2 separate regions of the Homo sapiens genome follow, and region 1 is linked to region 2. Evidence: fine-mapped expression QTL. Tissue or cell type: whole blood. Region 2 holds a variant in brackets; the other region holds the start of a gene. All regions are shown on one strand. Distances are from middle to middle.

Region 1 (8,185 bases), 25 kb after region 2:
TCTCTCTGCTTTTCTGAAAGTTTGAAAATTTCAAAGTTTTATAATAAATTTTTTTACATCCCATAATTTTATAATAAATTTTTTAAAGTTTGAAGCAAATCAACAACTATAGCTTCAAAAATATCCTGACCCACAATAAACATTGAACAGGGTATATTTCTCCCATTTCCTAAAAAAGTTGGCCCAGGAAGGAGTATGAGAGCTGCCATAGCTCTCCCAAGGCTCATTATTCTCCATCACTCCATGGGAAATCCCAAAATAAATTTTTAAAAAAGTTGTTTAAATTTATAATGTTTTTGATTCTATAATAATTTTATAATAAAATAATTTTATGTTTTTGATATTATATTTTTAATTTATAAAATTTTTTATACATGTTTATGTTTGAAATGTCTATTTCAAACTTTATGAGATATTAAAATATAAGTAATATAGTTCATCATTTTAGAAATGCCATGTTTTTCTTCTCCAGCAATTACATAATCAAAGAGTAACTGTAGTTTTTCCTAGAACATTGCTTTGTAGGCTGGGCATGGTGGTTCATGACACTTTAGGAGGCCAAGGCAGGCAGATCTCTTGAGATCAGGAGTTTGAGACTAGACTGGGCAACACAGAGAAACCCTATGAGTAGTAAAAACACAAAAATCAGCTGTGCATAGTGGCATGCACCTATAGCCCCAGCTACTCAGGAGGCTGAGGTGGGAAGATCACCTGAATCTGGGGAGGTCAAGGCTACAGTGAGCCAAGACTGTGCCATTGCACTCCAGCCTGGGCAACAAAGTGAGACCCAGTCTCAAAAAAAATGAAATTTAATTTAAAAAAAGAAAATTGCTTTGTAAAATTAACTTTTTCAATCAAAACCAAGATTTTTCAGATATAGAGAATGCAGCCCACTGGTTAGATTTGTCAGTTCAAAGAGAATAAATTCTAGTTTTCTATTTTTCTAGCCTGCTTATGAGTATCCAATAGGATATCAAAAAAGACCAAAGCCTTTGGGATCCAAGTTCAGTATTCCTGAGTCTAATTCAGGATGCCAAATCAGGAGACAAGCACATTCTCATCAATTTTCAATCATTCAAGACCAATTTTGCTTATAATTATCCAGTTCTTTTAGACCACCTTTCTCCTGAAGCCAGCCTTATGGCTATTCACTTCACTTTAGCATAAGCCCCCAAGAAGGTGAACAAAATGAGGAAAAGATTGGTTAAAGTTGGCTGTTTGAAATTCTGAAACATGTCCACCATTCCCTTCACCCATGCCCACCCCTCTTAGAAGTAGTACTTTCAGATTATTTAAGAGTCGATGCTTCTATGTGGATTTTAATTTGTCATCTGTCCTTTATAACAGCTAGTAGGTTTAATTTGACCCTATTTTAAGCATATATTGACCTATGCTAATTATCTGTTAAAATAAATTCCACTCTTAGAGTTAATAAAGTGTGTTTGTCATAGAAGACCCATTGAAGTAAGAAGCTGAGGAGTCCTTATGGTAAAGTGGGACAAGAAATAATAAGACATAATAATTTTCCCATGCAAATCAACAACCGTAGCTTCAAAAATATCCTGACCCACAACAAGTATTGGACAGGCCATGTTTCTCTCACTCCCTAAAAAATTGGCTCGGGAAGAAGTATGAGAGCTCCCATAGCTCTCCCAAGGCTCGTTATTCTCCATCACTCCACAGGAACAGCCTGTCAGAGAAGAGTGAAAGACCATTTGTCAACCTCTCTTCAACTCCCTGATTCTAGCCAAACTTCATCAATCCCAAGTGAGGAGCCAGAGATAAATCAAACCCCATATATCCAGCATCATTGTCTACTGGAGTCAAAAATCACAATTCCACTACCCACCCCAACACCACTGGCCCTGTTTCTCCCAATTGCGTTTTATTATGTTTTTAAAAAAATCCTCTTTCCCCATCCCTGCAACACCGAGAAGGAGGAATTATAGTAGATAAATATGAAGCATGGAGATCCTTTAAAAATGTTTTTAATAATAAATGAGAAAATGAAAAGGAGAGGGTTGGGAAGGAAGGAGGGAATTCAAATGCCAGGGAATTGTTCAGTTTCGCTTTTAAAGATGTTAACACTCATTTATACATCTGCAAGACACTTTCCTTAAAGAAAAGTTCTATGAGTGTGGGTCTGGTTGCATGAATAAGGATAAAATTACTTTTTTAGACGATGTTTCCCACATATAATTCAGAGACCCCTGAAATTAGGTATCCCTCTTGTAGATGTCCTTGAGATGCTGCTGGACCTGGGAAAGAGGAAACTGGGATATGGGTCTATGCCAAAAGGTGCTTCTAGTTATAGGACAGAGAGGAAAGGGGCAGAGGGAGAAAAACCTGAAGTCTGAGAATCTGGATTGCAGAAGACTACCGAGGTCGTGGGAGAAGGGAGAGAAAACAAGGATGAAAACCGAAAGGGGAAGAGGCATGAAATGTTGTCAAATGCCAAAAGGCATTTGGAGAGAAGTTGGGAATTGCATTAAGAAAACCACTGCAAATCTCATTTCAGACCATTTAGAGATATGCCCCCTGGGAACTGCGAGCTCAGGCTGTTTAGCATCAAACAAATGGATCCACTCCATCCCTACCCTAATTAAATAAATCATTCAGTAATTCCACTGGGTTAAAGAACCAAAATAATAAAAACCTTCAGGGCCTACTCTTGCCAAATATGTCAGGGATCGTGTGTGTGTGTGTGTGTGTGTGTGTGTGTGTGTGTGTGTGTGTGTGTGTGTTCTGAGACACCACTACTGTTAAATAGGCAGAGCTAAGACTTAGGGGACTGGCAGATTATTGCAAAAAGGGCACGGGGCAGAGGGACTATGTTGTGAGCCTGCGAAAGAAGTTTGTGTGGGGACTGTGGGCAGTGAATGCGTTGGGAACAATATGGAAAACTGGGAGCTGCCTTGGAATCTACAGGGCCGGGTAAGAGAATGTCCGAAAGAAAAATGAGCAGGTGCGGGATGTGCGCAGAGTCGGAGAAGAGTCCAGGGCGCCCGGAGTGGCTCCAGGAACGACGGAAACCCCTCAAGGCTTTTGGGGGCGGTGGGTACTAATAGAACCCAGTGTCCGGGGTGCACCGGGGAGGCTGCGAGCGCGGCGGGAGTGGGGCGCTGGAGGGTGAGGACGCGGGAGTGAGGTAGCAAAGCCGGGGCCGGGCAGGGGCCTCCCAACTGGGCCCGGAGGCAGCAGGGGGACAAGGGCTAGGAGAGGGCATGGCGGCGGCGCGGCGGGAAGCGAGGGGCATCCGGACACTCACCCCGTTGGCCGCGGCCATCTGCACCACGATCTCGATGGCCGTCCTGCTAAAGTACCTGCCGTCGCTGCCCACCACCATGGTGCAGCCCTGACGGTCGCGCAGGTCGATGGACGACAGCACGCTCTGGATAAAGTTGGGCAGGTAGTTGCGCTGGCCCTCGAAGAGGCCGGTGGGTCGCCGCAGACCCCCGCCGCCGGCCGGCCGCTGGTCCTCGTAGGGCGCGGTGGGCACTGTCAGCACCGGGATGGGGCTCCCCTCCATGGCGCCTCCTGGCCGGTCCTGCTGCGGCTCCCGGAGCCGGAGGGAATCTGCAGCCTGCCGGGGGCCTCCACCAGCCTGGCTGCGCGCCGGGACTCCGCCTCGCGCCCGGGCCCCCTCTCCAGCAGGTCGGCGCCCTGCGCCCTGCACCCGCCCGCCTGGGGACCGCCCGCCCCTCCTCTCCGCGCGGCCGCTCGGCTGACTCTCTCGGCAGAGATTGCTTCTGCCTTCCTGTAAAGTTTTCTCCCACCCACCTTCTCCGCTGCCAGACCGCCCGAGCTGCCCTCAGTTTCTCCCCAAGTTGGACTCACTTTCGGGGTGTCCCAAAAGCCTGATTCCAGGGCCTGCTAGCCCGACCCCGGTGACGCCTCCACCCGCGCCTGGCCCCAGCCTTCACCCGCGATCGCCGCCCTCCGGGGCACACCCTCCGCCAGAAAACAGCCGGCGGGCGGCGAGACTTTGGGCAGAGTCCGGGTTCCTCTCCGGCGCCCGGCCCGTCTCCCTGTCTCCCTGGGAGTGCGCAGCCTACACACACCAGTTTCTCTTTAGAACAAGGACGGGGAGGGATTTGGGAGGGGGCTGAAACCTTTTGCCATCAGCGAACAGCCTCAGCCAAAAATAACCCTGGAAAGGCGAGCTAAGAATGGTTATCTCCTGCCAGCGCTGAAATCGGAGGCTGGGCGCTGCGTGTGGGGTGTGTGTGTGTGTGTGTGTGTGTGTGTGTACCCTCCCACCCCGACCATTTGTTGAAGGGAATCACCACTGTCAGACTTCAATCCAACAGGACCCACTCGAGCCATCCACACTTTCCCCAGCCTCCTCCAAAACAGCACACTTTCCGGTATGGACAATTCTTTTTTTTTTTTTTTTTTTTTTTCACTTGTTTGTTTGTTGTGGTGGTTGCAACAGCAGCAACACAGACGACACATATTTCCCTATTCTTCTCGCCCTTCTCACCCTCCCTACCCAGCTCCTGCCTTAGAAATAGGCTTTCCTACACTGTATCTGTCCACACTGTCTGAACTCTTCCTTGAATTAATCGTTTTCAATAGGAGGGGGCTAAATCCCTTATTAATGCCCTACCAGGAGTGAATGAATAAAGCCAAGTTAAAGGAGACCTGGGTACCAGATACTGTGCTAGGTTCCTTTGCATGTATCCTTTCATTCTGCTGGAGCTAAAGATTTTCTGCCTCCTCTCCATAAAACGCACCCAAACTCCAAAACCAGGAAATTCTCCATAGAAAATAGGAGTGAAGAGAGAAAAGACTAACAGGATAAAACCCAAAGCAGGAAGAAAGTTCTATCTCCCATTTCTCTCAAGGAATTTTTGGACCCACCAAGGCTACTGTCCTGAAATATCCTGCTGCTTCTCCTTCCCCAAATATTGTCCACTTACTGAGAGTAAGGCTGACTTGCCGCAGGCTTATAAAGTGTTTGGTCACAGTAAGACAACTGTGAGTAATAACACACATTGTATACTGTTTTGCAATTGATTAAAGGCTTTGCATCTGTTTTTTCTTTGGAGGCTGAAGAAAAGAAGAATGGTATTCATGCAGTTCCCATTTTACAGATGAAAACAAGAGGACTTTTTCTGTGAAGTCAAGAAAGTGGTTACAATGGTACTTTCAGCCTGTCCGAATTATGTATTGCCCCTCCCCTTTTTATTAATAACATTGAAGTGTGATGGGACAACCACTGAAGCCGTCTGTTGAAACCTGCTGGGACTTTTTAGCCATTCTCTTCAACATAAAGAATGGGTGTTTTTGGAGGGGGTGAGAGGAATGGGGAAATGTTGTCAAAGAGTACAATGTTTTAGTTGAGACAGGAGGAATATATTTTGTTGAGATCTACAGCACAGCATGGTGACTGTAGTTAACAATGAAGTATTGTGTATTTCAAAATTGCTAAGACAATAAATTTCAAATGTTCTCACCACAAAAAAGATAGGTTTTGAGGTGATGAATCTATTAATTCTCTGGATTTAATTATTCCACAATGTATACATATATCATAACATCACATCATACCTCCGTAAATACATACAATTTTAATTTGTCAATTAACATTTTTTTAAAAGAATAGTGTGGCCAGTCGGGGAGGTAGTTTTTTTTTTTCCTCTAGTCTCTACTCAGTCTCCAAGATCCCATTTCCCATAAAGTTCCTGTCACCCAGGTGGAGTGCAGTGGCACAATCATGGCTCACTGCACCCTCTCCCTCTTGGGCTCAAGCGATCCTCCTGCCTACAGGTACATGCCACCACGCCCAGCTAATTTTTGTAGTTTTTGTAGACATGGGGTTTCACCATGTTGCCTAGGCTGGTCTCGAACTCCTCAGCTCAATCAATCTGCCCACTTTAGCCTCCCACAGTGCTGGGATTACAGGTGTGAGCCACCAAGCCCAACCCATAAAGTTCCTAACTTTTTATCTCCCTGGGAGTGCACAGCCTACACACACCAGTTTCTCTTTAGAACATACTTAAGAGTCTTGGCTTAGCATCCAACAGACAGAACTTTAACACTTCTAGGGATCTGTGCACCTGTCTATGGTGTGGGGTTTTTAAGATCTCTTTCTAATGACACTTTTTTTTGCAAAGCAGGACAGTTTCATTCCCAGAAGAGCAGGTATGGTAAATCCTTTGTTCCAGTAACGAAGACAATGATCCAAACCCTAAGCCTCAGAGAAGCCCAGAAACCCTCCAGGCCTCCATCTCTCTGCTCCTAGCACCTGCCTCTCTCTTGACATCAACATCATTCTCCCCTCTCACAGCCCAGCTCCTTCCACAGACCCAGGGATTAGGCACCAGCACCTCAGACTAGATTTTAGAGAATTACCATTCAAGAGGCAATCCTCTTCCCTTGGTTCCAATTTCAAGGTTCTCAAAGACTGGAACAGGGCTAGTTTGAGGCAATGTGCCCTACCACATAGCCAGAAAGAACCTTACAGTGACAAGGAAAACAAGTCTTCCAAAGTAAGGGGGTGCTGATCCCCAGAGGGAGGACAGATGGGCAACCAAACAGTAACCGGGCCACCACGTGCTTCACACTCACTGATCAAGGATTTCTAAAACCATTTGTCTTTTCTCTGAATTTATATAGGACTTTGTATCACTCATAAAGGAATGTCTTATAGGCTGATAACACCTTTCTATTCATGCTTATACCTAACATTTAGGCTAGGATAATTTCCTAACCTCAGTGTCCTCACTATAAAATGGGAATTATTATAATCCCTACCTCATAAATTGTTGGGAGGATTAAAATACTTAGTAAAGTGCCTGACTAATAGAAAGGCATTCAATAAATGTTAGCTATTCATGGTGTCATCATCATTATATTTACCATTATTACTAATCTCCTGTATTGCAAGAATTACAGTTTATATTTTTGTAGACCATCACTGTAGCTAAAGGGTCTTTGGGCCATAGGTGATATTCCATAAAGGTTGGTTAAATTGTTCTGTGGTTTTTGACTATGGAAACTCAGAACTCCCTCAAAATGTACAAAACAGATTTACCTGCTAAATAAATCTCTTCAAAGCTGACCCCAGGTTTAATTGAATTAATTCCAATGAATTTGTCACAATGATGGAGAAAGGAAACTTAGAGGGCCCCACAGTTGTTTGCTGGTAAAATGAGAAGTTTGGATTAGATCAATGTTTCCCAAAATATTTTCCTCAGAATGTTAGTGCCCCTCGAATCCTGCACAAAGCAAGAGTTTCATGACCAAGTAGCTTTTAAAACTCCTGTACACTCTACTCCCATTCTTCACAATGCACACTTTCATATTAAAAGTTCTGAGAGGTCCTCAACAGAAGACATCAATTAACTTTTTTTTTTTTTAAGACAGATTCTCACTCTGTCACCCACGCTGGAGTACAGTGGCCACCACTCCTGGCCTAAAAATTTTTTTTAACCTGGTGCTTCCCAATCTAAACTCACAGGGACCAGTTTTCTTAATGAAAGAGAATCAGACTAGCTTGTAACCATAGCTGGTGACATTCCCCTGCCCCATTCCTTGTATGTCCTCAGTGGACTAGGTCAGAAATAAATAAATTTTCCTGATTCTCAAGGGCTGGTCACTCCTTTGCACTGAGCTCAAAGCTTCTCTGTAGCATGGGTCACAATGAATGGTAGCCCTGATAGCCTAGAGTAGCCTTTCAGCCTTCTCTGAGCCTCTAAAGACTGAGGATTCTTGGCATGAAATAGGAGCAACTGATATATCCTTGCTTCCCCTGGGGACTCTCTTGCTCTCAAAAAGGCATCAGCCATCATCTCCATCTAGAGAATATACTAGCTGACTCAGTTTGACCAGCCTGTCCCAAAATGAGAATCTGGGTAAAATAAGTATTGAAACACTTCATTCCTTGTAGATTCACAAAACACATTAGCATATTAAAGACTATGAAGTTCTGCAGGAAAAAAAACCTATTTAACTTTAATCCAACATTGCCAAGTTTTATTTGACCATGGAAGATTTTTCCAAAACACTTACAAACAGATCAAGGACATTAATCTTTCATGAAACACTTTAGATCCCCAGGGTCCTCTCCAGCTACATCATTCTGTGATTTTCTTTTTTATTTATGATGCATTAAAAGATTAATCTCTATCAGACTTCCATTTAGAAATTCACCAGAATGTGCAAAGGCAGCAGGTAAAAT
Region 2 (8,185 bases):
GAAGATGCCAAAAATAAGCCTAGTCCTTCCAACCATATGTAATCAGCATATTGAAATCATTTTGCTTAATATAATGTACCCCTTGCCTTTAATTGTCCAGCCATCCCATGCATGTGCACACATATGCCTATGCATTCTCCCAGCTAGATTAGCAAAAGCAGGCACTGTTGCTTCCAGTGAGTATCATGGCTCTCTGTAAATTTCTGCTCATTACCTAAGCAAACAACTGACTCAAAACTTCTCAAGAAAGATTTGGTAACATTGGGCAAATACTGTGACCCCCCACACAATCCATTTTAATCTTTTCTCTATCCCTAAAATATCACATGGACACAAACCAGGTATTTCCTCTTTTGGGCTAAGTTAAATTACTTCTAAAATGAGGATACCATCTTAACACAAACTGCATTCAAGCTTATAGAAGCACTAAAAAAGTAAAACATGTTAGATCTATTGCTATTCTATGCCTTCTAGGAAAAAGCAATATGATAAAATACAGGGGGAAAATGTATACATACATGTTATTAATGTTGTTGTCATATGGTCTAAAATTAATCTATAAAACAAAAAGCTATCTTCTGAATACTGTAGAAGTTATATTTGCTTTACAATATAAGATAATATTTTTGACAATCTCATTTTGGTTCTTTAATTTTTGAATCACTTGCCTAAATATATTTGATAGTTACTGAATTCCTTTGTAAAATCTCCTAACACGGTGCTTGGTATAGGGCAGGTGATCAATAATTATGCATTCAATAAGCTGATGCATAATTATTCCAAGCTTGGTTATGGCTTGGAAAAGAAACTCCTACCTTTCATGAGAAATTTAATAACCCATTGACTTGTTAGGTTTCTTCTTAACTAAGGCATTCCAGCATCTTCACCTTAATTGCTTAGACAAGTTTTGGCAATTCACAGCCTATTTTTGGAATGCTATAATGAAGTCAACCATAAAACTTTTCCTATGTTGAAAATGATATCGAGTTTGGGAAGTGGTTTTTGAAAGTTTCCAGTTCTGAATATCTTGGCTGCTCTCATGTCTTCTCTCTACACCATATTAAGTTTACACACATTTATCGAGTCACCCCTGAGATTAACAATGCAATAATTTTCATGAGTTTACTTCCCTACAGAAACCAGTCAGCCCCATCCACATAGTTACTCTGACTTCTTCAAAATAAAATCTCTGTTACCTCTGAATGGTTTGAATTTGTTTTCTAGGTCAAATTCTTGTCTTCCTAGTCGAGATAGGTCGATTCGGAGATCAGGACATATAGCATATTCCTCAATCGTTTTGCTGATTTGGTAGATTTTGTCTGAGACAACATCGGGTGCAGGACCTAAAATGTGAACACCAAAAATACATGTTTTTGAAAGTCTCGTGAGTTTCAAGCAGTGAAATGTTACCATCCTCCTCCACCAGGCAGAAAAAGATTCATTTGTTCTCTAAACAATGATCAATGGTTCACAGTTCAATTAGCCTTGATATTTCTTATACTGTACTCATCCACTATGGGGGAAATTTGATCAGCCTCACCTGTTCTATGTAGACTAACAACCCATATGTTTGTTTGTTTGTTTTAATCCACTTCTAAGCAATGACACATCTTTCCTAAAAATAGTTTCACACCTGCCAGGGAAACCTGGTTACGTAATCAGCTTTATTCAGGTTATGAGACACAAACAGGATATGCATTTGACAGAAGTGAGGGATTCCAGATTTACATGCAGCTTCCCCAGTGCATCTAGAAGAGGAGACTATGCTTTCTATTCCCAGCTCTGCTACCTAATTGATGTGTGAGCTTAGCAGGGTAAGTTAATTATTTTCCCCAACTCACAATCTCTAGTCACTTCCAAAATGAAGCTCAACTAAAAATATGTGATGCATTTCCTCGGAAGACCAAATTGACAAGTAGTATTAGACTTTAAATAAATTGAACATGAAATCAATACTTGTTCACCTTTTGGGGTTTTGCTTTTTTTTTTTTTTTTTTTTTACCTTGTATATCTTAATGCAAGCCATTTCAGATTTTTTTTTTTTTTGCAACAAGGTTGAGAAACAAATAAGTAGATTGAAAGATCTAAAGTATAAATGATCGCTAGATGTATAGATAGCTTTCTGTATGAATCTTACTTGTCAACTATACTGTAACTTTCTACTGAACAAAAATTGTTTCTTGATTTTTAAAATATCTCAATCCTTAGAACTGCATTGTCCAATACAATAGTTACTTGTCACATTTAGCTGTTGAGCACTTAAAATGTGGCTAGTCAAGTTGAGGTGTGCTGCAATTGTAAATGCACACCAAATTTTGAAGAGTTAGTAGAAAATGCAATCGATTGCATTAATAATTTTTATATTGATGACATGGTATAATAATATTTTAGATATAGTAGTTTAAATAAAACACAATGTGAATTTCACTTGTTTCTTTTCACTTTTTTAATGTGGCTACTAAAAATGTAAAGTATGTATGTGACTCACAATATTTTTCTGTTGGACAACGCTGCCTTAGAGTGTAGCACCATCACCGTATTCCAATACATGCTCATAAAAAAGAATAGCAATAGTCCTATTCTAGTAAGTGGGAGAGAAGACAGCCCAGAAGATTTTACCAACAATTTTCTTGTTGTGTGGGAAAAGTGAAGTCCTCAAAGAAATAAACATAGCCCTTTTCTTCACTCCTTACCATTTTTTACCCTTCACAAAACTTAAAGAATAGGTAGTCTTGTTTCGTTTTTGCATTATTTTATGCTTGCCAGATTATAGAATGCATGAATATCTCCCTCCACTCCCTACACCCCAGGCACCATACTATATTCTTTGGCTGTGTCCATCATTTTCAAGTCCCTGAGTTTTAATGCCAAAGCACACTGATTTCCAAAAGTAAAGAAAGTACTGTCTCTCTAGATAGTTGTCTATGATGCCATTCAACCATCCATGCTGATAACTTCAGAGTTCATCAACAACTTCTGAATTCCTTTTCAATTTCCAAGCTCCCTGATATCTTCCACTCCAATGACTTTCACCATATGCACACCAAAAATATGTACAATTATAATATATATTAAAATAATTGTTTTTTAAAGGATACGGCAAATCTACAGGCACTCATATAAAAATAAATTTTAAGATGCTAAAAAAGAATACCCAGAGATTTTAAAGTGCATAAAATAAATAAATGAAAAATGGAAAAGCTAAAAAGCTTTTTAGTTTGAGGTAGTCCCATTTATTTGTTTTTGCTTTTGTAGCCTGAGCTTTTGATGTGATATCCAAGAAATCATTGCCAAGGCCAATGTCAAATAACTTTTTCCCTATGTTCTCTTCTAGGATTTTTATGGTTTCAGATCTTATATTTAGTTCTTTATTCATTTTATTTCTGTGTATAGTGTAAGATAAGGGTCCAATTTCATTCTTTTACATTTTTGTTTTCCCAGGCACCATTTATTGAAGAGGTTTTTTTCTTTCTCCATTATGTCCTCTTGGTGCCCTGGTCCAAAATTACTTGACTATATATGCCTTGATTTATTTCTGGGCTCTCTATTCTGTTCCCTTGGTCTATGTTTCTGTTTTTATGCCAGTATCATACTGTTTTGGTTTTACTTTAGCTTTGTAATATAATTTTAAATCAGCAAGTGTGGTACCTCCAACTTTTTTTTCCTCAACATTGCTTTGGTTTTTGGGGGCTCCAAACAAATTTTAGTATTGCTTTTCTATTTCCATGAAGAATGTTATTGAAATTTTGATAGGGGTTGTGTTAAATCTGTATATTGTTTTTGGTAGTATGAATGTTTTAATAATATTAATGTTTTTGATCCATGATCAGTGAGCACAGGATATCTATTTATTTGTGTCTTATTCAATCAATGTTTTATAGTTTTCAGTATACTTTCACCCCTTGGTTAAATTTATTCCTAAGTATTTTTTTGATGCTATCATAAATGGCATTGTTTTCTTGATTATTTTCAGCTGGGTCATTATTTATGTATAGAAATGCTACTGATGTTTGTATGTTGATTTTGTATCCTGCAATTTACTGAATTCATTTATTAGTTCTAAAAATTTGTGTGTGTGTTTGTGTGTGTGTGTGTGTGTGCATGTGTAGAATCTTTAGAATTCTCTATATATAGGATCATATCATCTGTAAATAGAGATTATTTTACTTTCTCCTTTCCAATTTGGATGACTTTTATTTATTTTTCTTGTCTGATTGCTCTTGCTAGTACTTCCAAAACTATGTTGAATAGAAATAGCAAGAGTGGGCATCCCTGCCATGTACTAAATTGTGGAAAAGTTTTCAGTTGTCCCCAATTGATTATGATGTTAGCTGTGGGTTTCTTATAAACGACCTTTATTATGTTGAGAAACTTTCCTTCTATACCTAAAGTGTTAAGAGTTTTTGTTAAGAAAGAATGCTGAACTTTCTAAAATGCCTTTCCTGCACCAGTTGAGATGATCATGTGGTTTTTATCTTTCATTCTGTTTAGCCAGTCTTGCATGTCAGGGATAAATCCCACTTGGCCATGATTCATAATTTCTTTAATGTGTTGTTGAATTTGGTTTTCGTCAATATTTATCAGAGATATTGGCCTGTGGTTTTATTTTCTTACAATATGTTTGTCTGGCTTTAGGTATCAAGGTGATGCTGGCCT[A/C]ACAAAATGTGTTTGGAAGTATTCCCTGTAGCTCTAATTTTTGGAAGAGTCTAAGAAGTGTTGGTAATAATTATTCTTTGAATGTTTGATAAAATTCAGCCATGAAGCCGTTTGGTCCTAGGCTTTTCTATTTTGGAAAGTTTTTAATCACTTCTTCAATTTCTTTATTTGTTGTTGGAGTGTTCAAACTTTTTGTTTCTTCCCAATTCAATCTTGTTGGGTTAGTTTTTCTAGAAATTTATCCATTTCTTCTAGGTCCTCCAATTTGTTGGCATAAAATTGTTCATAATAATCCCTTATGACCATTTTTATTTCTGAGGTATCTATTGCAATGTCTCCACTTTCATTTCTGATTTTATTTATTTGAGTCTGCTTTTTTTAGTGAATCTAGCTAAGAGTTTGTAGATTTTATTTTTTCAAAGAACCAACTTTTGATTTTATTTATATTTTCTATAGTTTTTCTATACTACATTTTATTTGCTTCTGTTCTGATCTTCATTATTTCCTTCCTTTTGCTCACTTTGGGTTTAGTTTGTTCTTTCTTTAGCTCCTTGGGGCATAATGTTAGTCTACTTATTTAGATCTTTTTCCTTTTTTAATGTAGGCATTTATTGCTATAAACTTCTCTCTTAGAACTGACTTTGCCGCATACTGTAGGTTTTGATACATTGTGTTTCCATTGTCATTAATCTCAAAGTATTTTTTAATTTCCCTGTTGATTTCTTCTTTGACCCATTAGTTCATCATAAGCATGTTGTTTAATTTCCACATATTTGTAAATTTTCCAAGATTCCTCTTGTTATTGATTTTTAGCTTCACACCATTGTGGTTGGAAACAATACTAGACATGATTTCAATCTTTTTGAATTTGTTAAGGTTTATTTTGTGGCCTAACATATGGTCTATCCTGGAGAATGTTCTATGTATGCTAGAGAAGAATGTATATTCTGCTGTTGTTGGATGAATGTAGGTTTGGTAGGTCCATTTGGTCTGAAGTATAGTTCAAATTTAGTGTTGTCTTGTTAATTTTTTGTCTGGTTGATCTCTCCATTGTTGCAAGTGGAGTACTGAAGTCCCCTATTAGTGTTATATTGCTGTATATTTCTTCCTTCATGTCCACTAATATTTGCTTTACATATTTAAGTGCTTCAATGTTGGATGCATATATGTTTACAATTGTTATGTCCTCTTGATAAGATGACCTCTTTATCATTAAATCATGACCTTCTTTGTCTCTTGGAACAGCTTTTTACTGGAAGTCTGTTTTATCTGATATAAGTATAGGCATCCCTGCTCTCTTTTGGTAACTGTTTTCATGGCATATCTCCTTCTATCCCTTTACTTTCAATATATGCCTATTCTTAAAGTTTAAAAATGGGTCTCTTGTAGGCAGCATCTAGTTGGATCTTGTTGTTGATCCACTCAGCCATTCTGTATCTTTTGATTGGAGAGTTTAACCCATGTACCAGCAAGGTTATTATTGATAGTAAAAGACTTACTCCTGCCATTTTGCTAATTGTTTTCTGGTTACTTTGTAGATAATTTGTTCTCTTCTTCCTCTATTGTTGTCTACCTTTGTAGTTTGGTGGTTTAGTTTTCTGCTTTGTGGTTACAATATTGTTTTTTAAATATTCAACATGAATACACTTTCTTGTTTGGATAACGTGTAAAACGTCTGCAAGGAGGGATAGATAATAAGTTTTCCCTTCAGACTGCACTGCTTTGCCTGGGATGAGGAATAATTTATAATGGTAACTGTTGCTGGTTAAAATTTGGCTCCTACCCACATTCATGCAAACTCAGTGTTCTAGATTAAAAGAGATTTAAGAGACTTGCCAAGCAAATGCATGGCATCCTTAGATGTATCCTGATTTGAATAAAACAGCTATAAATAATAATATTTTGGGGATTATTGAAAAATTTGACTATAGATTAGTTTTCAGGTGATATTGGAGAATTAATGTTATTATTGTTAGGTATGTTAGCACAGTCATGCAGCAATGTGTCTTTCTTTTTTAGAGATGCATACAAAAATATTTGGGTGTGAAATGTTCTCGTGCTATAATTTGCTTTAAAATTCTTCAGAAAAAAAGATAAGCAAAATAGAAAAACAAGATAATGGGTACATGTTATCTATTTCTTATTCTCCCTATTTTTTTGTGTGTTCAATTTTAAAAGAAATTTACTCCATACATATATCCCACCCCCTCCACTAAGGACCCCCAAACTATAGATTGCTGTGAATATAAGAAAAAGTGAAACAATTCTATGATTTTGAGAGAAAGTCAACACTGTAGGAAAAAGAGAGGCCAGGATTTGGGCTAAAAATCATTAATCTGACCCTGATCAACCCTGTGGCCTTCAGCAGTAACTCAGCCTCTCAGGCCTTTGATTTGTTCATGTGTAAAATGAGGGTCATTTTCATTTAGACAACGACCTTCAGGGTATGTTTTAATGTTAAAATTCAGAGTCCTTCCATATCAGATAAGCATCAACTATTCAATAGTTTATGCTGAAGAGTACAGGGGACCAAGAGACCACCCAAATGGGTTCATGAGCCCATCATGCCACTTCTTTGTTGGATCTCTTTGGGCACCTCACTGAATTTTTCTGAGCTAGGTCCTCTGCACCTTGCTTGTCTATCATCAAAGAGTCACTGTGAGACTATAATAATATAAGAGGAAAGAAATCGTAATTATTAAGGCATATGCTGAACCACATACCTCCATTGGCAACATTAAACTTCACTCCAAACTCTCCCCCTGGTCCTCCAGGGCAGTGGCTGGCTGTTAGAATGATTCCACCAGCTGCCTTGATCTTCCTGATAATGCAGGAGACCGCAGGTGTCGACAAGATGCCATTCTGTCCAATAATCAGTCGTCCAATCTAAACCATCCAAAAAAAAAAATCAATCCAGTTCCTTGGGATTAAAGCCATTTCAACAGGAAAGTGCCCCAGGCTCTGTTAACATACAGCCAATAACTTGATAAAAGAAACAGAGTAGGCTTTAGATTAGGGGAGGCAGGGTAGGGGGAGCACTGACATTGTCTCTCCTATCTAATGTCTCTAAGACCATTTGGTGCACCTGCATCTAGTAGTCAATTATTAACCTGTAAATAGGATATGCCTCATTGATCTTCAGTAGTTTGAAACATCTGCTTCTGATAATCGAGGGGTTAGCTTGAATCACACAAGAAGTTCTTAGTTTGCTACTGACTCAGAAACTATGCATGTGGACATGCTAGAGATTACAAGAAAAAAGAAATGGAGTGCTTCTCTGCTTCTTCTGCTTCCTGTAACTTAGAACAAGCTCAGAGAGCAAGGGGACTGATTTAGTACAACCTCATCACCTGTGGGCATATTTTAACTGTAATCTTCAGGAATGACTTTTCTCCTGAAAGTAGGAATTCTCTTTCTGCTGTTAAGTGACAGCATGTGCTGGAGACATTGGAGAAATTACCCAGTCATGCTAAGCAGAGATCTGGAGGTCATTCATGGATGCAGCCAGATTCTTTCCAGAGCTACAAAA

The links. PIP is the estimated chance that this variant, and not a neighbour inherited with it, causes the effect.
Region 1: PGM5 starts here. The variant in region 2 is fine-mapped to the expression of PGM5 in whole blood (INTERVAL, PIP 0.98).

The regions. Positions count from the first base shown.
Region 1 is chr9:68,352,472-68,360,656 of GRCh38, reverse strand. It overlaps PGM5 (phosphoglucomutase 5), which reads right to left and starts at 4,046. Exons shown (of 11, transcript NM_021965.4): 1 at 3,269-4,046. The coding sequence starts at 3,529. PGM5-AS1 (PGM5 antisense RNA 1) reads left to right here and starts at 2,791. Exons shown (of 3, transcript NR_121192.1): 1 at 2,791-2,934; 2 at 4,311-4,367; 3 at 5,052-5,493.
Region 2 is chr9:68,377,556-68,385,740 of GRCh38, reverse strand. PGM5 (phosphoglucomutase 5) reads right to left here. Exons shown (of 11, transcript NM_021965.4): 2 at 7,380-7,542; 3 at 1,197-1,343. Among named protein-coding and RNA genes, the nearest start is that of PGM5-AS1, 24 kb to the right of the region's middle. The variant A/C (reference allele first, on the strand shown) is at 4,657.